Homo sapiens: one gene and its partners. The protein of the gene in region 2 interacts with the protein of the main gene of each other region in a pairwise test. Each region holds a gene or a part of one and is shown on either strand. Other genes may lie near its edges.

What was found.
Region 1: the proteins of FSD2 (region 2) and OXNAD1 interact in binary tests that used the Homo sapiens proteins (3 or more experiments, as listed by UniProt).
Region 3: the proteins of FSD2 (region 2) and UBTFL1 interact in binary tests that used the Homo sapiens proteins (3 or more experiments, as listed by UniProt).
Region 4: the proteins of FSD2 (region 2) and PBX3 interact in a two-hybrid assay, tested with the Homo sapiens proteins (3 studies listed by BioGRID and IntAct).
Region 5: the proteins of FSD2 (region 2) and ESD interact in binary tests that used the Homo sapiens proteins (3 or more experiments, as listed by UniProt).
Region 6: the proteins of FSD2 (region 2) and CDC73 interact in binary tests that used the Homo sapiens proteins (3 or more experiments, as listed by UniProt).
Region 7: the proteins of FSD2 (region 2) and ZNF230 interact in binary tests that used the Homo sapiens proteins (3 or more experiments, as listed by UniProt).

What each region holds. Positions count from the first base shown.
Region 1 is NC_000003.12:16,292,712-16,296,211, forward strand, and holds part of OXNAD1 (oxidoreductase NAD-binding domain-containing protein 1 isoform 2 precursor), read left to right. Parts: intron 1-2,144; coding exon 2,145-2,286; intron 2,287-3,500.
Region 2 is NC_000015.10:82,757,966-82,761,069, forward strand, and holds part of FSD2 (fibronectin type III and SPRY domain-containing protein 2), read right to left. Parts: intron 1,636-3,104; coding exon 1,383-1,635; 3' UTR 1-1,382.
Region 3 is NC_000011.10:90,084,808-90,087,631, reverse strand, and holds UBTFL1 (upstream-binding factor 1-like protein 1), read right to left. Parts: upstream 1,683-2,824; coding exon 501-1,682; downstream 1-500. UniProt on the Homo sapiens protein: Essential for proliferation of the inner cell mass and trophectodermal cells in peri-implantation development.
Region 4 is NC_000009.12:125,928,873-125,932,372, forward strand, and holds part of PBX3 (pre-B-cell leukemia transcription factor 3), read left to right. Parts: intron 1-782; coding exon 783-973; intron 974-3,500. UniProt on the Homo sapiens protein: Transcriptional activator that binds the sequence 5'-ATCAATCAA-3'.
Region 5 is NC_000013.11:46,773,162-46,776,661, reverse strand, and holds part of ESD (S-formylglutathione hydrolase), read left to right. Parts: intron 1-3,500.
Region 6 is NC_000001.11:193,230,031-193,233,530, reverse strand, and holds part of CDC73 (parafibromin), read right to left. Parts: intron 539-3,500; coding exon 377-538; intron 1-376.
Region 7 is NC_000019.10:44,009,457-44,012,956, reverse strand, and holds part of ZNF230 (zinc finger protein 230), read right to left. Parts: intron 2,689-3,500; coding exon 1,493-2,688; 3' UTR 1-1,492. UniProt on the Homo sapiens protein: May be involved in transcriptional regulation.

The DNA of each region.
Region 1 (3,500 bases), on a different chromosome or scaffold from region 2:
ATAGGGGTCCAAATTCATTCTTTGTATGTGGTTATTCAGTTCTCCCAGTGCCACTGTTGAGTAGACTGTTCTTTTGCCATTAAATTGCTTTGGCAGCCTTGTCTAAAATCAATTCACCATGAATTTAAGGCTTTATTTCTGGACATTCCGTTCTTTTCCATTGATCTACATGTCTGTCCTTATGTCAGTACAACAGCATTTTCATTACTGTAGCTTTGTAGTAACTTTTGAAATCAGGACCTGTGAGTCCTACAAATGTAAACTTCTTTTTCAAGATTGTTTTGATGATTATGGGTTCCTCAAATTTCCATATGAATTTTATGATCAACTTGTCAATTTCTACAATGAAAACACCTGGGGTTTTAGTAAGTATTGCATTGAATCTGTGGATCAATTTGAGGAGTATTGCCATCTTAGCAATATTTAAGTCTGCCATGCCATGAACATGGAATATGCTTCCATTTACTTAGATCTTTAATTTTTTTCCAATGGTGTTTTGTAGTTTTTACTGTGTAAGTCTTACACTTATTTTGTTAAATTTATTCCCAATTATTTTATTCTTTTTTATGCTATTATAAGTGTAATTGGTTTTCTAAATTTCACATTTGGATTGTTCGTTGCTAGTGTATAGAGATACAGTTGATTTTTGTCTGTTGATCTTGTATCCTGCAAACTTATTTGAATTTATTAGTTCTAATATCTTTTTAGTGAATACATTAGTATTTTCTATATATGACAGCATACCATCTGCAGCTTCCACCTCTGCAATCTGAATGCCTTTTATTTCATTTTCTTGTTTACTTACTTTGGCTAGAACCTCTAGGACAGTGTTGAGTTGGAGTGGTAAAAGTAGACATCCTTATCTTGTTTCTCTTAGGGGGGAAACTTTCAGCCTTTCACCATTAAGTAGGATGTTAGTTGTTCTGATCACGTTTTATTTCATTTTCTTGTTTACTCACTTTGGCTAGAACCTCTAGTACAATGTTGAGTTGGAGTGGTGAAAGTAGACATCCTAATCTTGTTTCTCTTAGGGGGGAAACTTTCAGCATTTCACCATTAAGTAGGATGTTAGCTATGGGTCTTTTGTAGGTGCCCTTTATCAGGTTGAGAAAGTTCCCAATTATTCCTAATTTGTTGAGTATTTTTGTTATGAAAAAGTGTTGGATTTTGTCAAATGTCTTTTCTTGACTATTGAGATGATCATGTGGGTTTTGTCATTTATTCTACTGAGTGGTGTATTACATTTATTTATTTTCAGATGTTAAACCAACCTTGTATTCCTGGAATTTTTGTACCTAAATTCAGAAGGGATACTGGTCTATAGTTTTCTTTCAATGTCTTTGTCTGGCTTTGGTATGAGGGTAATACTGGCCTCATAAAATGAGTCGAGAAGTGTTCTCTTCTGTTTTTGGAATAGATTTTGAAGGATTTGTATTAATTTTTAAATGTCTGATAGAACTTAACAGGATGCCATCTGGACCTGAGCCTTTCTTTTTTTTTTTTTTCTTGACATGAAGTTTCGCTCTTGTTGCCCAGGCTGGAGTGCAGTGGCGCAATCTTGGCTCACTGCAACATCCACCTCCCAGGTTCAGGTGATTCTTCTGCCTCAGCTTCCCAAGTAGCTGGGATTACAGGCATGCGTCCCTACGCCTGGCTAATATTTTGTATTTTTTTTTTAGTAGAGACGGGGTTTCACCCTGTTGGTCAGGTTGGTCTCAAACTCCTGACCTCAGGGGATCCACCTGCTTTGGCCTCCCAAAGTGCTGGGATTACAGGCGTGAGCCACTGCGACTGGCCTGGGCCTGAGCTTTTCTTTGTGGGAAGTTTTAAAATTATTAACTCAATCCTTTAACTTGTTATGGGTCTGCTCAGATTTTCTTTCTTCTTGAGTCAGATTTGGTAGTTTATGTCATTTTAGGAATGTGTGCATTTCATGTAAGTTAGCTAATTTTTTGGCATATAGTTGTTCATGGAATTCCTTTATAATTCTTTTTATTTCTATAAGCTTTGTGATGATATCTCCTCTTTTATTCTTGATTTTAGTAATTTTTTTTCATAGTCTTGCAAAGGTTTGTCAATTCTGTTTAATTTACCAATTTTTAAAATTGCTTCAACAATAATCATTTATTTGGCTTTCTTTTTAGGGTTGATTTCTTTATTCCAGGAGTCTCTGTGGTTGGTGGGTTTTCAATATGCTCCAGTCCCAGACTGCTAGAACAAGAGAGAGTGATAGAATTGGCAGTGAAATATACGAACCACCCTCCTGCCCTCTGGGTTCACAATACGGTAAGCACACTGCCTGTTTAAACGCGATGATCTGGGTATCTCTGCCACCCACAAAATTTGTGTTAAGCTCATTTGATTCACCTAAGAAACCTGGGCTTGAGTAAAAGGGTACATGCCCAGAAAGAGCTTCTAAGAAAGGTCAAAGAAACTTTGATGCATTAAGTATGAGTCAGAGACTTTGGGATCTGGAAGTATTTTCTGGGTCACCAAACGGTATTCAGTTGAATACTGCTTTAGAATTAAAATATTTTATATTTTAGACAAGTTCTAAAAAGTTGGCTCTCTGTGTCATGTAAATGGTAAATCTATAAATCAGATTATTTTGTCCTAACCATCCTAAATAAAGGGAATTAAATTATTATTCTGTCATTTTTGGAGGGGAAACTATCTGATTACATAGTACTGCTTCTTCCCAGAGGTGAGCACAGCTAAATCCACGGTGCCATTGCCTCTCTATTTCAGTGTCTGGAAAGCTCTTCACTCGGGATTCTGAGAGAGAATCCAATTTGATTGCTGTTAATAACTCTTATTTCACCACAGGGCTCAACACAATCCTACAGAAGCTGCCTGTCATTACCTACTAGAACTCTGATAACAAAGAATGAGCTCAGAACAGATCAGTTACTCGTTGTCTTAGTTTTTGACCCTTCTATCCTTTTCACTTATTGCTTTTTCTATTCTTTTCCTTTTCCTTTCACTTCCTCTTCATTGCAAGAGTGTCTTCTATATTTACCAACAACCTCCATCCCAACCAGGCATTTTCTTACCTTCTTTACCAAAAACACATACCAGTATAAATATGGCTTCAAAAACAGCATTTTCCTGTTTCCTGGAAATCATTGAAAATCAATGAAGGAAAAAGAAAACAAAACCTCTATTTTCAGCAAAACTTGGAAACACACTGTAGTATATTTTTAAAGGTTGCAGAGAATTTTTGGGTTTCTGTAGGAGCCACATGGAAATAAGTAGAGGAGAGAGGCCGAGTAGCAAATTTCATAGAGCACCAACAAAAATACATGAGGGAGTGGGGTGGGACTTACAGCTCTTGCCTGCAAAGAGGGTATGGAAACACAGTTGCGTTTTGTGGCTGTAGAAGGCCCACCTGAACGCAGCAAGGTTCAGTTAGGAGAGAAGGCACGCAAAGAATCACACAGGCAAATCATGTTTGTAGGAACTAATATGTCCTGTAGTAGCTGAAGAGAGCTTTTATGTTG
Region 2 (3,104 bases):
AGTGGCACAATCTCGGCTCACTGCAGCCTCTGCCCCCGGGTTCAAGCAATTCTCCTGCCTCAGCCTCCTGAGTAGCTGGGATTACAGGCGCCCACCACCATGCCCGGCTAATTTTTTGTATTTTTAGTAGAGACGGGGTTTCGCCAGAAAAAAGAAAAGTGGACTTTTTTTTTTTAAACACAAAACCTTAAATGATGAGATTAGGGCATATCTGGGTTTAGAGGCATCTGTGGGACATGATACTGAATTGTAATTGCTTCACAAATGGAATTATTCTGCAGCTTCACTCACAAGCTTTGAAAATGCTGTGTGTGCAGAGCTTAAGTGGCAACTGGAAACTTGAACAGGAGAACCAGGAATGTAGCTGATGGAGTTGGGCATTGAGCTCACAGAATGGCCTGGGGGCAGTGAGGCAGGATGCCTGAAAGCTGCCTAGCTAGAGATCAGTCTTCCTTCCCGTGCTCAGCTTTGCCCTTTGGTGGGCTGTTAATTTCTTTTAAAAAATTGTTGTGCATTTGCTAATATGCCACAGATGCCCTTCTGTTCTTTCACGCTGCCTCCATTCTAGGTTTTTTCCCATTTCTTGGCCATAGGTCCTTTGCTGTAGTTTTGAAAGAGCCCTGCCATCCTTCACATGGAGAGCAGTAAGAGGCCAAAGAGCAGTGGCTGAAGAAGATACTAATTTATTCAACAAATACTTGGTGACAGCTGTTATGTGTTAGCCCTTGGTGATCTAGCAATGAACAAAACAGGCACTGTCCCTCCCTTCATGGAATTAGGCATTATAGAGGTAATTTCAAAATTAGAGAGTGGTGCATACTGTGTAGGAGTGGAACAGGGAATACCCTGTATGCAGAGTACACAGTGGAAGGGACCTCACCACAGTGCTGCTCACTATTGGGAAAACGAGGGTAGAAGACATTGAGAAGGGCACACAGCTTCCCTGGTTCTCTACAGACAGCCTCTCGCCTTCTCAAGTGTATTCTTGGCTGACTCATGAAATGCATGGGTGTACTGGTGCTGCTGGAGCCATTAAGACTACCCTCGTCCTCTCCCAAGCTCTCTAGGTCTTGGAAACTCAAGATATTTTGCATATACACGAATATAGTTTGACAGCTTCAAAGACTTTTGAGTTCGTTTAGTCTGAGCCTTTATTTTACAGCTGGGCCTGGTAATGACTATCCTAGCAGCACACAGGTAGCAGCACACAGGACTAGAATCCAGGTTGGGTGAAATGAGCGCTAGCACACCAGTCAGATAATAGCATGAGCCATAAATTGTGCTGGGCACATGGTGCTTAAGTGCCAGGTTCAGCCAGCTAAGGCGTGAGCAGCTGCGAGAGGGGTAGGCATGGAAGACAGGAAACTGGACATCAGAATGTTCTAATAGAAAGTGACATGTTTTGGCATTGAAATGCCATTATGTACCTTTAGACACCCAGGCTTTTCCAAAGAAAAACAGGGATGCACAAATTCGTGAAGCTGACAACTAAATGTATATAGATGCTGAGAAAGGTCCACATTGAAAAATGACAACTTTGAATGTTCATAGTCTAATAGAATGCCAATCTTCTTTGGTGGAACTGTTATTCTTATATCTGGAGTTGTTCTGTTGTGCAGAAATTCATACTTATGCCTGAAAATTAAATTTGACATAATAAAGTTTCAGTAATTCTATAGATTGACTATTTATAGAACATTTCATACTAATTTTATTCATAGTCCTATGATTTTGCTATTTTCTAGTATTAAATGACTACCAAGGTGACAAGCCATTTCTAAAACTATACTCTCTAAACTATCTCTTTTCTAAAATTTGTCCTAAGAAACATTTTCTTTTTTTTTTTTAGATGGAGTCTTGCTCTGTCACCCAGGCTGGAGTGCAGTGGTGCAATCTCGGCTCACTGCAACCTCAGCCTCCTGGGTTCAAGCAATTCTCCCACCTTAGCCTCCTGAGTAGCTGGGATTACAGGCGTGCACCACCAAGCCCGGCTAATTTTTGTATTTTTAGTAGAGACAGGGTTTCACTGTGTTGCCCAGGCTGGTCTCGAACTCCTGAGCTCAGGCAGTCCACTTGCCTTGGCCTCCCAAAGTGCTGGGATTACAAGTGTGAGCCACTGCTTCTGGCCGAAACATTTTTCAAACATCATTTTTTCTCTAGCAACCTCTTAACCTAAGAAATTTACCTATAGCATCCTGAACTCTCTTTCATCTAAACTAGCATAGGAATAGAACATGTTTTTAAAATTTGGATTAGACATTTGAAACAGGGAACCTTGTGATTTTCCATGTGATAAAATGGGCTTCTTGGTATAAGCTCTTCTATGCACAGTTACTCCAGTTCTTAAACTTTCATATTGAGTGGGGAGCCAGTGGGCCTGTTACCAATCAATACTATATCACTATCCATGCTCTACATCCTGTGTACTTTGAAAAATGGCAGAAATGAAAACCTGTCACAGGAATTTCCTAACCCTGCTACCTACAGATATTTGAAGAGCTCTTTGTGTCAACAGGCTAGTCTAGGCTACTGGGATAAACACTTGGAATATGATCTAAACGTGTCAGAGGAAGCCTGCCTGTCTCTAGCCCATTTCACCTTAATTTAACTAAGCAGCTGCCAGAAGCTATGAGTCGTTTCTTCTACTTTCTATGCTACCACCAATAAAGTCTAATACTATGAGCCAAAAATGCAAGTCTGCTAGGAGACCTTATCCTAGGATACCTTACCTTCATTCTCCACTTGTAACGTGTGTGCACGTGTGTGCGTGCACGCACACACACACACACACACACCCTACATCTGTAAGAAACTGGCTTGGCTCTAGCACTTGGACTGTAGCTTTTGCCCTTCTTTTGTCATTCTTCTGTTTCCACCCCTCTTCTATTGTGTCTTCTTACCCCCTTTATTCTTCCCTCTACACGTGGACTTCTAGGCTTTCTTTATGCTCCCTTAGTTTTACTCTGCCCCTTGTTCTTGCCTTTCTAAAGAAGAGACTTTGCTCTTTAGTCTTACTTCAGGCAGAATCCCCAAATAAAGTATCTGCCTCAGTGTATAGTAATTCTTGGATTCCCCAAACTGGGTGTGAGGTTTAGTAGATTTCA
Region 3 (2,824 bases), on a different chromosome or scaffold from region 2:
ATCAAGAGTGGGACAATTCTCTTAAGACACCTACCCCACCTTTCATCAAATATCCCCGACCTTAGATTTAGTGCAGGAGTCCTGAAAAACATTTCCACAGGGAAGTTTGGGTCCCAGGCTTATGGGTATCCCCCTACCACCTTTGGCAGGACAAAAATGAGTAAAGCAAAGCTTCTTGCTTCAGAAATATTCAGTCTAATACAGTGTGTACCCCACAACGTAATCATCTCTTCATTTCAGAAGCCTTAATTGCATAAAGTTCCTCGGGAAAGGGATGATATTTGTTTGTTTGTTTTTTTAAGGATAAGGCCAGTATTGGCTCAAACTTATATTTATTCTTCCCAAAGAGTTCCTCCCAGGTTCATAATCTTGATGTAGGAGAGTGCTGCACCAAGTTGCTTCTTTCTTCCCAACCTGTCCTACTTTGCGGGAGGAAGGAAGAAAAGAAAACAAACAAACAAAAAAAAAAAAACAAGGAAGCTGCACTAGAGCCACTGCCCTCAGACATCAACTTCTATTTCTTCTCCACTGCTGCAGTCTGAAGAGTTACTGCTTTCTTCCTTTTCTCTATCTTTCTTCCTGTTCTCTTCTGGTTCCATGGAGACATGACAGTTTACCCAAATAGTCTGTGATGAATCTGTTCCTGCAGCCTGGAGCCCTTGCCCCTCCCCAAACCCTTCTTGCAGACCCTTTGCTGATGAGGACTGTGGATCTGCTTGTTTCAACCTGGGGTCCGGGCCTCCTGTCATGGCCATATTCTTACCCTTAGCATAGGTCGATTCTTTGTATGCAGCATAATTTTCAGGTGACAAAGTCTTGAGCCAGAGATCCAATTTCACCTTGTATTGCTTCTGCAGCTCCTCAGCCTGGCTCTTAAAATGATCCTTCTGGCTCTGCGGGATGCGCTGCCAGCGTCTGCCAATCTCTACCATGCGCTCCCTCACTGACAAATGTTGCATCTCTTTACTTGACCAGGAATCTTGGTGAAACTTGTGGTATCCATTCATGGGGGGTTTCTGAGGCTCTCCATGAAATTTTACCTTCTTGAAAAATCGATCCGTTTTTGGAAGAGACCTCACTTCTTCAATATTTTTCTGAAACTTCTTTTGCACTTTGTTTTGAGTCCTCTTGGAGACACTAGATTTCTTGGCCTTCTGGACTAAATCAGGGTGTTCTTCCCTGAATCGAGCAAGTTTTTCCTCAAATTCTTGCTTTTCCTTCCGGAAATCCTGAATATATTTCTGTTTCATCTGCTCTGGGAGTTCCCTGTATTTCTTTGACAGGATTTTGGTCAGTTCCTGGCTTCTCATCCCAGGGTACATTTGGGAGTACTGGGGCCAACTCTCCTTGAAGAAGCGATTGTAAGCAGTAAGGGGCCTCTTTGGAAAGTCTGGACCGTTCCTGTATTTTTGGCTTTTGTTCATCTTTTTAACACATTTCTTAGCTTCCAGGACTAATTCTTTCAAAGTGCCGAATTTTCTCAAGTTGCAAGAAATCTCTAACCATTTGAGTCTGCACATTTCACCAGAAAAGTTTTTAAAAGCTACTTTTCCCCAGTCCATGTGTGACTGAGTTGAGCTAAACGTGCTGTTGTCATCAGATGGGCGATTATTCTCCATGCATTCCAGTAACCTCAAGATGTCTTTGTTGGACCAATGGCCTTGGCTTCTAGGCAAAGCCATTTAGATGTCTTTGGCTTACTTATAAGATCCCGGTTATGTAGACACCAGAGCAAGAACACAGAGTTCTTTACTTTTAAGACTCAGTGGATGATTTATTTCTGGAAGTATTGCAGTATGTGTGATTCTGTATTTCTGAGGAGAAAGAAAGTTACTCTCCTTCATTTGGATTAATGAAGCAAATTACATCCTATTTGTCATATGTCCCTTGTATAATTCATTTGACCCTTAACTATAAATAAACATTGCCTGTTTCTGAATTAAATTTATGTTTGCCTTTCATATGCTACATGCACAATATTCAGTATCTCCACACCCCACCCCAGCCTGCTTTCTGCCAGATCTCACATGAACCTATCTTAAATTGAGTTGCATAACACAAACACCAGACCACTCATCACTTAAGAAGCTTAATATAACAGAAATGCCCTGAAGACAGAGTCAGAAGTTAAAGTGGAAGGAGAAATGCCTAAACAGGAAGGACTGTTCATTCTACAGTGCCCTGAGTATGGCCATTTTCTAAGCACAGCCCAAATAGCCATAGCTAAAGGTGCAGATGAGAAGTTAAAGATACAATCGGACAAGCCCAAGAGCTCCTCCAGACATGCATCCAACTGTTACCTTTTTATAAGGGAATGTGAACCTGTGATAAAAGACTGAATTATAGATTCTCCAGGACCAGTGCATGGGAATTAATGCTTTCTTGCTTTCTTTTATTTCTTTTTTTTTTTTTTAATTGAGACGGAGTTTCACTCTTGTCGCCCGGGTTAGAGTGCAGTGGGGCAATCTGGGCTCACTGCAACCTCTGTTTTTCAGCTTCAAGTGATTCTCCTGCCTCAGCCTCCCAAGCAGCTGAGATTACAGGCATGTGCCACCACGACTGGCTAATTTTTCTGTATTTTTTAGTAGAGATGGGGTTTCACCATGTTGGCCAGGCTGGTCTCGAATTCCCAACCTCAGGTGATCCGCCTGCCTCGGCTTCCCAGAGCGCTAGGATTACAGGCGTGAGCCACCACTCCTGGGCCGGGAATGAATGCTTTCTAAGAACCATACTGCTTCTCCTTTTAAATATCAAGGATTTAATGACAATTATAAAACATTTCAACTTTATTTGGTTAATTGTTCATCATATTTAAGCCTCAGTG
Region 4 (3,500 bases), on a different chromosome or scaffold from region 2:
GGCCTGCACTACAGCTAAATTATAATAGGTCATTGGAATGCTTGGCACGCAAGGCCCTTTATGTGCTAATTCAAACCTGAATCCTTTTGCTTCTTTACATATTATCTGTATTCCTATTTGCCATTCTCTGAACTTGCAACATACTGTTATTTCTAGTACCTGGAATTCCTCCTGACTTCCATCTTTATCCACCTTTCAAAGATGCTACCTATTGTTTAAAGCTCAATCCGTGAAGCCTACAGATGAAAATATTCCTTCCTTGGAACTTAATATCTTCCTGTTAGTCTTTGCACTGAATTAGTTTTTTATACATTTTTTCTCACCAAAGGCCAGGCCTGCATCTTGCTCATTTCTGTGTTCCTTATAGCACTGGCAAGAGTTTGAACTTTGTAGTTGTTCAGTAAGCATTTGTTGATTAAATGTAAAACTCCAGAGAAAATAGGTGGTACTTAGTATTAACAATTAACATATATTTTTACTTGTATATGGGAATTGATAGGGAGCATCCTCGAATGGGAAAACATCATTTTGGAACTGGACAGGGGTGGGTGGGAAGAGTAGTTGAATGCTGTCTCCTTGCACGTCTGACCATGCACGGTTTCAGAATTCTTGCTGCCTTAACTACTATTACTACCATTTTACAAGTGTCTTAGTTTTCATTTTACCCTACACACTGTATAATGCTATTGGTGAATGCAAATGAGGTGTAAATTCAGATGAGTGAATGTCTTCGTGTGATAGTAGATAGTTTCCAAAGGAGTGATTTTTTTTTCCCATTACAGGCATGTAATGAATTTACTACACATGTGATGAACCTTCTCCGAGAACAGAGTAGAACACGTCCCATTTCTCCAAAAGAGATTGAAAGAATGGTGGGCATCATCCATCGAAAATTTAGTTCCATTCAGATGCAGCTCAAACAAAGCACTTGTGAAGCAGTTATGATTTTAAGATCAAGGTTCCTTGATGCCAGGTATGTGAAGCCATAAATCTATTGCATGGCTTTCCCCCGTCTGTCACTCCTTGTGTATTATTTTCTGTAAAACTGACCAGTTGGTCTTAGATTCTTTTGGCCATATGAGTCTTTTGTACAATGGACAGGTAATTCAACTCATGGTTCCTGTGCTGTCAAGCTTTCCTGTCTGGGAATGGTAATGTGGGTTAGCTGCCAGTTTAGTGACTCAGGAAATGAATAGGATTAGTGTCTCTGCTAATGACTTTAGGAATATGTAGCCTTTCCATTCTGATGCTAAAAGGTATTTTTAAGGATAGTTTTCTGCATATAACTGTTTTAACAAGGGGTATTTTGTAAGAATTTCTTAATGTTACACGGGTTGTGCATAATATGGGAAAATACTTGGAGATACTGATACTCCTAAGAAGGAAGTGGCATTTCAGTTAATAGCAGTTACCACAAAACTCCAGAATCTGTATTTCCAAATCAAGAAAGAAAGCCTACCATTTTTCCTGTAAGGATGAAAATTTCCCTTTATCTGAAGCTTTCCCCAAGTTTCACAGGAGTTAGGTAATATATTGTATATGGTAATAAATTGTCTACAGTGACCTACTGAGTGACAGAACAGAAGAATTGTCAACGTCATAGTGTACGCTGCCCCTGTAGGGATGCCTCTCGGGGCATTGCTAAAGCTTATGATGAATCTGCAGCTTTGGAAAGAAGTTTCTATTTTGTTTTTCTTTCTTCTCCCATGGAATCTGACAGAGGTGATAATTATCATCCAAATCTCACAGTATTAAAGGAAATAACTAAGATAGCTTCTCAACTGGAAAACAAAGTGTGTGGAGCATTTTCAGTGTTTTTCATTTTAGCTCTTTATTTTCATCTCAGTTCCTGCCCATCCTTTTGTACATGGGCTAGCACAGTACCTACTAGTCTCCCTGTCTCCAGTCCTACTGCCCTCCAGCCCATCCTCCATATCCCTTGTCTGTTTCTATAACATCACCGTGCTACCATGATTGCTTTGCTTGAAAACCACAGTAGCTTTCCAATGCTCGATACATGCATACTTCACATATACACTCCTTAACCTGACATTTAAGGCCTGTTCCTGTCTGCATTACTTCTTTGTTGTTGTGAAGATTTTATTATTCTTTTTTCTATTTTAAAAATGCCAAGCTCACTATGGAAAGTTTGGAAAATATATGGAATAAAAGGATGAAGGATAAAAGTTAACCTCATTTTTATTACCTAAAGAAAAAATCACTATAAATGTTTTACAATATTCTCTCTCTTTTTGTTTGTTTGGGGGCTTTTTAAAAGAAATATTTCTGTGATGGGTCAATATGCATAATTTGGTCTGCTTTTTAAAAAATTTACCATGAATACATGAACATTTTCATGTAGTATAAGCTCTAATTATTAATAGCATTTTAACAATTGAAGTTACCAAATGGATATAAAATAAATAATGTCCTTAGCATTCCCTTATGCATTCCCTATGCACTCCACCCAGGCTGGAGTGCAGTAAATGATGCTATCATGGCTCACTGCAGCCTCGACATCCCATGCTCGAGTGATCTTCCTGCTTCTGCCTCCCGAGTAGCTGGGAGGCATTTGCCACCATGCTCGGATAATTTTTGTATTTTTTGTAGAGATGGTGTTTCACCATGTTGCCCAGCCTGGTCTTGAACTCCTGAACTCAAGCTATCCTGCCTCCCAAAGTGCTGGGATTATAGGCAGGAGCCACCATGCCCAGCCAACTATTAATTTTCATATAATTTCTTCCTTTCTTCCTTCCTTCCACAAATATTTATTGGTACTGAGGATATATTGGTAAACAAGACAGATTAATATACTTGCCCCAATTGAGCTTATATTCTACTTGAGGAAACAGACAGTAAACAGGTGAACAAATATACCATAACATTCTATTTAATAATGTAATTAAATGTAATAGGGTGATAAGTGGTATGCAGAAAAATAAAGCAAGTCAAGGGGAGAGAAAATGGAGAGGGTACTATTTTAGATAGATTTTTATTTAAACTAACATTTTAATGAAAATCTTCATTGATTGAACCTTTTTGGTCTTTAGGATTATTTCCTAAGGATCAATTCTTAGAAATGGAATTATTAGATCTGAGTTTGAACATTTTCAGTGTTCTTATTTATATATCACTAAATTGTTCTTTCCTGTGTTTCTTCCAAAATGAAATGCTTCATGGAATTATGTTTCTACTGCTTAGAATTCCTTCTTTTCCTAAGTCTAACCACTTACTTCCCTGGCTCCCACAACAAACTGTCTCTCTAAGCTGGTTACCAGTAATGAGTCATCATCTGTGAGGGTATCTGGAATGGAGCCCGGAATGGAACCAGTGCTTGTACTTGTTGGATCTAGTGAGATCTTGCTCATCGTTCCGGATCTGGTCTAAATGCTCGCTTTTCAGAAAATCCACCTTAATCACCCTGCTGGACTAGCCCTTCCTTCCCTTGAACACTTATACTATGTTTACGCAACTATTCAGACTGAAAGTCATGTAGGCTC
Region 5 (3,500 bases), on a different chromosome or scaffold from region 2:
TGGTACATTAGTTTGTAAAATGCTTTCACAGCATTAACTCATTGTTAATTCTTATACCGCCAAATGAGATATCATTTCTTTCCTATCCATCTGTTTTACAAATGAGGAGACAGGCTCAGAGAAGTAACCTACTTATCTAAGGCCACATAGCTAGTAAGTGGTGGAACCAGAACTGGAACTAAGGCCATTTAACTGCAAATACTGACCTCCTGTCATTTATCAAGCCATTTTCAGACGGCATGATATTCTCCTGAGGAGCAAAGGAATGGAATTAGAGCTAGCACAAGGAGAAATTGTGCATAGCTTGCTGCCTACGTAACTTATGCAGAAGATCTGAGCAGTCTTCCTGTTTTTAGGGATATTTTGCACATGTGAACTATATAGTGAGAAAATGTCAAAAACTAATACATGATATACTGTTTGTCTCTTAGTGTCCATCCTTGAGTAATAGAATTTTGTTTTAGATTTATTTGAACATTTACCATCACAATTAAATTTTAGGTCAACAACCAGCCTTGAGAAATCCAAATACCAATTTGACTATAAATATAGTAATACGTTTAACTGCAATAACTATAGCTATAAGTGCGTACCAAACCATGTTTTTTCCAAATGACCTTAATTTCTTGGCACTACCCATGTTGGATACCTCATTTGCTTCCCCAAAGACTGGGCCCAAAATTTCTGTTGTTTCTACAATGATTCTGCCTGCCAACAAAGTCTGAAAATCTCAAGTTTGTTATAAAAACAGCACAGTTAGAACATGATGACATTCCTGGAGGGAAAAATAAGTCCACTTATTTGTTTCTAAAATGCCTGTATCCCAAGCAACTAGAACACATAGTTGGCTATACTTAATGAGGAGTCAAGACAAACCATTCAATTCTTCTAAAAAAGTAAGAAAGTATTCAAAGCACCAGAGTCACAATGTTGAGCTCAGGTGCAATTTTCTATTCACTTTACTTCCAGCATGGTCGGGTTAAGAGTGGACTACATAGCTTGAAGCGGATTTCGTTGAGATTCGTTGTAATTGAATCAACAACTGAATGAGCATGCCTAAGTAGTGGCTCCAGAGAGTCTGCTTTCAGATTTTCTTGCCAGCTTTGACCCAAGATTACCCTGGGTCTGCGAGTTTTATCACCTGCTTTATCATTTGATTACAAGTATAGTATAACTGTATTTCCTTGTGGGATAGAAGCTGTAAAAAATAAGCTGAAAATAATAGGGGATATATATAAATAAACGATCTGAGAAAGAATAAAGAAAATAATTACAATCATGCACATGATTTACTCAACTTCATTCTTTTACCTCTTTTTAATGGTGTTAAATGCTCACAATTTATATTTATACTCTGTCGAATGTCAAAAAAAATTTTTTAGAGAGAGGGGTTAGTGCATCGGGGATATTTATTTGGTTATTATTTTATATAATTTTTTCTTTTTCTATTTTGGCTTCAGGGAATCTAAATTGAAAAAAAAATACTAGGTAGCAGAATTCTGATATCTAGTGTACAGAGATCAAATCTTAGTCTGAAAAAGAAGGGCCTAGTATGTCTTATCTTTAGTTATTGGAGTTACACAGTGAGAAAAAAAAATTTAGTGACCTAATACTGTGAAGAAGTTTCCAGAAATAGTAATCTCTTTTTGTGGAATAGAAGGAGAGGCTATACTACCTCCTTAAGTCTCAGGACCTTTTTGAAGATTGAGAGGCTGTTTTAGCCTCTGCATCTGCCTGCTAGAGAAGAGTAAGAACATGGCAGAGAATCCCAGAAATGTAGAGCTCTCTCATTCATCTCTGTATCCCATGCTTATTTAGCATAGGTATCTAGCACAGAGACTCTCAATACTTGTTAAATGAATACAGTGCAAAGTCTTCCTCCTTATACACTGAAGAGATTTAATAACCTGGGGATTCTTATCCAAGCTTTTCTAATTGGGTCTGGAAAATATATAAGAAAACACTGCCTGTTAGGATAAACATCCATCATAGCTGCTGGAGCACTGCTCCCTTTTTGAGAGCTGAGTGAAGAATGAAAGAATGAAAGGTGTTCATTTATTTTTATACTCCAGGAGTCAAGAGTTTTGCTACCAAGGATTTTCCATTTAAAGTGTGAGGTAGAGGAGAAAAGTCCCCTTCAAGTGTCACTAAACATAGGCATTTGCACAAGCTGCTTAACATATCATACCAACTCATTCATCAAAGAATTTAATTAAAGAAGCCATCCCCATTTAATAAGACTGATAAATAGAAACCCTCGTCAGGGATGATACAATTAGCTCGAATTGTGTAACTTCAGCAGGATACCAATTGTTCAAATGTATTCTATTGCCTTTTTGTTGACATTTTTTAAAATTCTTGGGCCCTCAATGGCAGGCATTTTCTTCTTTCTCATATAGGTGAATCTTTATCATTATGGAACTTATGGTCATTTGTTTTGGATTTTAGATGTCTTGTCTTGCAATATATTCCTGGGTTTACCTTGGGACTTCTCTAATAATAATGATGGCTATTCATATGTGTCTGATGGCTCTTAACACACAAGAAACTAAGGATAAAAATATGGCATACTCAGTCACATTGGAACTTGGTCACACAAGTCTTTTGAGATATCTGTTTCCCTGCATCTGTACCCATTTTCTATCAGATCCATCTTTTGATCTGTGAAAAATGGCAGATAATACTTGGTACATTTTACAGGTTTGGTGGCCTAAAACTCCAGGCCTGTTTAACTTCTTAACAATTCAAGAATTATATGGATGGAAAATGTTTTTCTTTACATTTCTTTCTTTATATAGGAAACTGTAATTTAGCTCTAAATTCAACTAGCCAGCTGGGACTAGTCTAATCATTGAGAGACATGACACCAAGTAATTCCGAGGCTCAGCTTTAATCTTGACAACATTCCTGTCACATTCACTTCCATGATAGAAGACAGATTGCTTTAGAAGACTTAAGTTACCTTGACCTTAAACTAGAACTTTTTATTAACAGCTGTTCCCAAGATAAACATTTAATACCTCTCTGGAAGGGAGAGATTGAGAACATTTACTGATTCATCAAAACCTTGGGGATTTCCTTGTTCTCTGAAGCGTCAGTGATATTTTTATTAGCTCTATTTTTATTTCTTAGGTGCTTAGAAAAATTCCCATCTTTTCCCATCAGTGACCATTCACTAGTTCAAAATGGGAAAAACAAAATCTTTGTTAGACTTTCATTTCTTTCGGTTTATTCAACCTTGTATTTTAATTGTAGATAGGGATAAATTATCTGGTGTTTGATACCCTTAGAAAGTTCTTCCCACCTGGAGTGTAAATTAGTTTAACCATTGTAGAAGATAGTGTGGTGATTCCGCAGACCTAGAGGCAGAAATGCCATTTGACCCAGCAATCCTATTACTAGGTGTATACCCAAAGGAATATAAATCATTCTGTTATAAAGATACAAGCACACATATGTTCACTACAGTACTATTCAATACTATTCAATAGCAAAGACAT
Region 6 (3,500 bases), on a different chromosome or scaffold from region 2:
GAGGAATTATTAGAATGTTAACATTATTGATGACCAAAGTAAATATACATCAACACACTTTTCAAAGACAGTTTCTATTTAGAACCCATGATAAAATTTGATAATTGCTCACATGAGAAAAAACAACCAACAATATACAGAAAACAAACGAATATTTAAAAAATATAGGCTGCCAGGTGCAGTGGCATGCACCTGTAGTCCTAGCTATTTGGGAGCCTGAGGCAGGAGGACTGACAGAGCCCAGGAGTTCAAGTTCTGCCTAGGCAACATAGTGAGACCCCATCTCTTAAAAAGCAACGTCATCAACGGCAATAACAACATTCATTCTCTTGGGTTCAACACCTGTGAAAAGATATATATATAGAGACTATCTTACCAGTCTTGAGGCATAAGTTTAAGGGGCTGGTCTACTACTCTATAAGGTACTGTAACACTAATTGCAGTGCCCCCTGGTTGCATCTGGTCTTTTCTTCTTTGTATTAGAGTTTCATTTTCTCGTTGACAACCTTGTTTCTTCTTTTCATCTGATGGGACAAATCTTTGAAAAAACAGAGATGAGAAAAAGTCAATGTATTCCACGTGATGAAAATGGGAAGATAAACTATAATTTGAAATATTTTTTTTTTTTGAGACAGAGTTTTTTCTTATTGCCCAGGCTAGAGTGCAGTGGTGCAATCTTGGCTCACTGCAACCTCCACCTTCTGGTTTCAAGCGATTCTCCTGCCTCAGCCTCCCAAGTTGCTGAGATTACAGGTGACCGCCACCACGCCCAGCTAATTTTTTTGTATTTTTAGTAGAGATGGGGTTTCACCACGTTGGTCAGGCTGGTCTCGAACTGCTGACCTTGTGATCCACCCGCCTCGGCCTCCCAAAGTGCTGAGATTACAGGCATGAGCCACCACGCCCGGTCTGAAATAATTTTTAAACATTAATTAGTTTTAAACTAAAGATGTTTGTTTTTAAATAAACCTGCTCTGCAAGTACAGATCATGGAGTGTATAGGTCTTTCCTCTGTATACCAAATAGAACTCAAGCTCACTCAGACCCTAAGTTGGGTGTGTGTGTGTGTGTGTATGTGTGTGTAACACCACACAATTTATATTCATTCAACTAGCACTTAGCATTTTCCACACTAATACTTAATTTCTCAAATTCTATTAGAGGAAAACTTCATGATAAAGAGGAATTTTATTAGAAATCAAAAGGTCATTTGAAATGAAAAAGTTGTTGTGGCTAGTAGGCTTCTTTACGACTTAGCCTATCCAGGAGCTTCATAAAACTTTTTTTTTTTTAAGATTTTATGCTTCAGCAAAATTACAAAAATACCATCAAACTTCAGAGTAGCCTTGAAAATTTTAAAGTATGAAAATTAAATCAGTGCATGCTGATAACCTGCTATTATTATCAACTAGTGGCATTTATCAACTTACTTATGTGGATCCATTCTCAAGACAGATATTCTTAAAAATAACTTAGCAATCTGGATAGCTATTACCACCTGTAAAATTTGCTAGTGTTCACAAAGTATTTTAAAAGTCTTATTTTCTAAATATATACATAATCCTAACAGTCCAATAACATATTTTATTAACTATGATCTAGTCTCTCCAATAAAATGGAGGGAATACAATCAATATATTGAGAGTATCATTCTGCTTCTAAAGTTTAAAAGAGATGAAAGGGTGAAAGGACCAAAAAGCACAGGAGAACTTGCACTAATTAGAGTTCTCTGAAAAACTTCAATTACACATATTGGATTCATCACATAATACTAATTTTATTGTCTAGAAAGTTTTTAGTTCATGGTGATAATGATGATACTGAACTTTGCTTCTGAGCTGATTGTTCTCACATCCATTTTACATTTGGTTAAAAAGTTAAGATTTCTATATCATTTAAAAATTTCCCCCAGATAATCATTTGCTTCCTATGGCATTTGGTTTATTTATTAATCAAGCTCACTTAGAAAATGCCAGACAGTACTAATACTTTGAATAATGAAACACATTATTTAGAAAATTTAATATGTGTGCATTGTTTGAAATTGCATTCTAATAAAAAGCCACAACAAAAATGTTTTAATAGTATGTGCAATACATTGTGCTATAAGTTTTATAATATACATAGTTGTACAAAACATAGTCCCTGCCCTCTTGAACTTATGTTCCACACACACAGAACAAAGGGATTCTACTGCCAAGAGAAATGCTTTGTTTTATCTCAGTCTATAACTACATGGGATTTAAACTGTTTTAAGTTGTTAAATATAAGACTGCATCTCCCTCTTTTCTGGCTTCTGAAATTTTAACATGGTGTTAAAGTTTAAATTTACTTGTACAAAATTACTTATAAACTTATAAACAAAATTACTTATAATCATATGACTAGAATGCAAAATACATACAAATGAGTGATCTATTACAATACCAAACTAATAAAAAGTCTATTATACACCTATTTCAACTTTTGCAGGTCTACACATTGGTTGATATGTTTTATAAAAGCTCAGAAACATTAACGTGGTTTTTACAATTAACCACCGTCCTAGAATTTTTAGATGCTGTAGCATGTTAATTTCTGATTATATCTACGTATTTTCTTAGAATTAGTCATCTCTATTAGCAATAAAAAAGGCTTTATTTCAAAACGCTTTTCAGCAAGGATCTCATTTGAAAACATAAGGATAGATCTTATGACCTCTTCCCTAAAGTTAAGTCTACTAAAAAGATTAGTATTCCACAGAGTCAATATAATTTTACCTGTTCACCCTACTGCAGTTCATCAAATCTAAGACACAATGATTGTGAGCTACACCATTATATTGTACCACTATGAAAGGAAAAAACTACTGCCAATTAAACTATGATATTCTACATAAATCACAGTCATCATCCCTCCAGAAAACTGGTTATTTCTTCTGGCTTGGGCTGCACTGCTGGGTGTGTGATAGGCAATTGTTTCATATGTATCTCAGGCAAAATAGGTTCATCTACTATTGCTATCTTCCATTTTTAGGTTCCATAAAGCTCCTGGTTGTTGCTTTGCAAAAAAAAAAAAAAAAAAAAAAAAAAAATACGGGATTAGGGCGAGGTGCAGTGGCTTATGCCTGTAATCCCAGCACTTTGGGGGGCCAAGGTGGGTGGATCATTTGAGGTCAGGGGTTCGAGACGTCTGGCCAACATGGTGAAATCCCGTCTCTACTAAATATACAAAAATTGGCTAGGTGTGGTGGCGTGCGCTTGTAATCCCAGCTACTCTGGAAGCTGAGGCAGGAAAATCACTTGATCTCAGAAGGCAGAGGTTGCAGCAAGCCGAGATCACACCACTGCCCTCCAGCCTGGGGGACAGAGTGAGACTCTGCCTCAGGAGAAAAAAAAAAAAAAAAAAGAATGGGAATGTCATTCCTCTAATGCGGAAGAATTCAAACATCAAATCTGCACTCCACTGCTTCATTTTAGTGTATTTTTGAATATACAACATTTTTATTGACATAAAATTTA
Region 7 (3,500 bases), on a different chromosome or scaffold from region 2:
TGTTGAATTTATATTGTATGCAACCAATGGAGCATTAGACAAAGCCACTAGTAGTAAACTTCAGAACAGAGGATGAGGGGAAGCCAGCAGCCAAGTGCAACAGGGTAAGATTACCCAAAATAATGCTTTGGATTGCAGAACTGAGTGTATTCTGCATTTTAACTCGTGTCCCTGAATTATTTTTTGTAGATTTTCTCTCCTAGATGCAATTTTAAAATATCATATTTTCTCCTTTTGAGTCATTTAACACATACTAAACATGTAAGTGCTAATCAGTGTTAAGGTCCTGAGGATGCAGAAAACAAGGTACCTGTAGTTGACATTCTAGTGGTCACCACTTTTGACATGTTCATCATTAGGGTTTTGTAAATGTGTGAACAAACTCTTATTCTAAGGCCTGTCTCCTGAATGACAAGCGTAAGTTCTGTTTGCAACCCTACTGCACAATTTACAAGAGTTCTCTACTACGATGGTCCTAGGATGATGGGAGAATGCTGAGCTATGGTGAAACACTGAATTTAACTTAAACAAATGTTTTCTGTCCTACAAGCCTGGATGAAATATATTATCAGTATGGACTGTGATAAATTATGATATAAACACACACTGAAGTGCTTACCATATGCCTCTTTTTAATGTTTTGCCCCTTTGTGAACTCTCAAATGAGATTATAGACAACTGAGCAGAGACTTTATCACACACCTCATTACTAAGGATTCTGTCCAACGTGGACACTCTGGTGCAGTTGAGGACTTGAGGCCTGAGGTGGTATGAAGCCATATCACCCTAGCCACACTTCCATAGTTTTGCTCTTGTGTCAAGCCTCTGAGGCATAAGATTCGAGTGATCTAGCAATCCCACTATTGAGTATATCCAAAGCAAAGGAAATCAGTATGTGGATCAGATATCTACACTACCATGTTCATTGGAGCACTATTCTTCACAATAGTTAAGATATGGAACCCACCTATGTGTCCATCAATAGATAAATGAAGAAAAGGTGGCATATATACACAATAGAATACTCTTTGGGCATAAAAAGAAAACAAAATTGTGTCATTTGTGGCAACATAGATGAGCTTTGGAGGACATGTTAAACAATATAAGCTAAGCAAGGTAAGATAAATACTAACTGTCCTCACACACATATGGAAGCTAAAAAAGTTGATTTCATAGAATTAGTGAGTAAAACAGTGGTTCTAGAAGCAGGGAAGTGTAGGGGTTAGGTGAGATAGCCAAAGATTGGGTAACAAGATACATAAGTACTGCTAGATAGGAGAAATACATTCTAGTGTTCTAAAGCACCAAAGGTGACTATAATCAACAATAATTTATTGTTTCTTTTCAAATCGCTAGAACAATGGATTTTGAATTTTCCCAAAACAAAGAAATGTTAATTGTTTAAGGTAATACACTAATTACATCAATTTGATCATTACGTATTATATACACATATTAAAATTTCATACCATATCCCATATATATGTACAACTTACATATCATTTAAAAATAATGATAAAATTATATCCAGATTCAAGCGCCTCTTGTAGCGCTTCCCACAGTCCTCACATTTGGATGAGTTTTCTCCATTGTGGTCTCCTTGTTGGTCTTTACAGAAAGACCGGTGTACAAGCCTCTTTCCACAATCCTCACATTTGAAGGGTTTTTTCCGGCAGTGGAGTTTCTTATGATTCAAAATACTTGAAGCCCGGCTAAAGCTCTTCCCACATTCCTTACAATTATAAGGTCTCTCTCCAGTATGGACCCTCTGGTGCAAGTTAAGACCTGACTTACTAATGTAGCCCTTCCCACACTCCTCACATCTGTATGGTTTTTCTCCACTGTGGATTCGCTGATGGATCAAAAGATATGAGGACCATCTGAAGCTCTTCCCACATTCTTTACAATTGTACGGTTTCTGTCCTGTGTGAATTATCTGATGCTTATGCAAATCTAGGCTATCAGTGAAGCCTTTTCCACACTCCTCAGATTTGTACAGTTTCTCTGCTGTGTGGACCATGCAATGCCTATTAAGACTTGACCTAAGGCAGAAGCTCTTACCACATATTTCACATTTGAACGGCTTCTCCCCAGTATGAATTATCTGATGTTTCTGAAGCTGGAAATCGTGAATGAAGGCCCTCCCACATTTCTCACAAATATAAGGTTTCTCTCCTGTGTGTAATTTGCAGTGAACTTGAAGTATCGCTCTACATCTGAAGCCTTTCCCACATTGCTCACATTTGAATGGTTTCTCTCCAGTGTGGACTCTCTCACGAGTTTGCAGACATGAGCTCTGACTGAATTCCTTACCACGCATGTCACACTTAGAGAGTTTCTCTCTCAAGTGAACTCTCTGGTGAATACGAAGAGCTGAGATGTAACAGAAGCTTTTTCCACACTCATTGCATGTATGAGACTTCTCTCCTGAGTGGAACTGCTGAGGAGGATCAAAGATGGCAACATCACTGAAGGACTGTTTACACTTCCCATTCTGTGAAGGTTTCTGTCCTGTATGAATTATAGATAGTCCTGCCTCAACCTGGGAGGGGACATCACCTTGTTCAAAGAAGTGAGAATTATTTATGATGGAGTCTTGAGACTGGGTTAAGTCACTTGCAGTTTGTTCCCAGATTTGCTGGCAAGGGCAGTCTTCATGTGGTCCTGCTTCCGCAATAGTCTTGCCGCCTATAAGGACACAGAATGAAGAGATGTGGACAAATGAAGCCTTTGTTTGGTGTTTTTAAGATTTCACACTTAGGATATGGCATTCAACTTTAATGAATGTTCAGTTTATGTTTTCCCCATGAATCTTGTTTTCTGGTTTGTATGTGACCAATTTATAACCACACCATGTCTCATATGTAAAATCCTTGATGGAAATAACAGACTCCATTAAAAAACTGATATAATATATACATTTAATTTGTTACTATTTCTAAGGAATTTTCTGGTCAGTCAAAAATCTTGCATGATAAATTACTAAATTAAAACATTATGTTCATAGTGAAATATAAATCAAAAGGAAATTTAAGGAAAAACAATAACAAAATCAATAGTTTATATATCTGTGTTTATGTTGTATATCCTTATATAGAAGTTACCCTAAGTAAAAAGAAGTCAGAACTTTGTCCTCAGCATCTGAGAGGTAATCTCTAGGATCCTGACATATCATGCGGGAGGACAGTGTCTTTGTTTGTTAGGGTGCCAACTCTGGATCACTCTGGATAGTGAAACAATATGATTTAGGGTTGTGGCTGGCCACTCCTTTCGAGGGTGAGGGGTGGGAGACCGTCCTCCCCATGTCAGAAAGAACAAAAGTGTTGTTTAATCTGTGAAGTCTGTTATTTGTTACCAGCAACAGGGAATACAGTGTCCATGACAGGACAGAGTAACAGCAGGGAGGACAACGTGGCTGGAAAAGATGATGCAAGGGCGAGAGGACAGATGTAGTCAAGAGGCAGCAGGGGATGAAGAACAAACCTCAGGGTCTCTAAAAG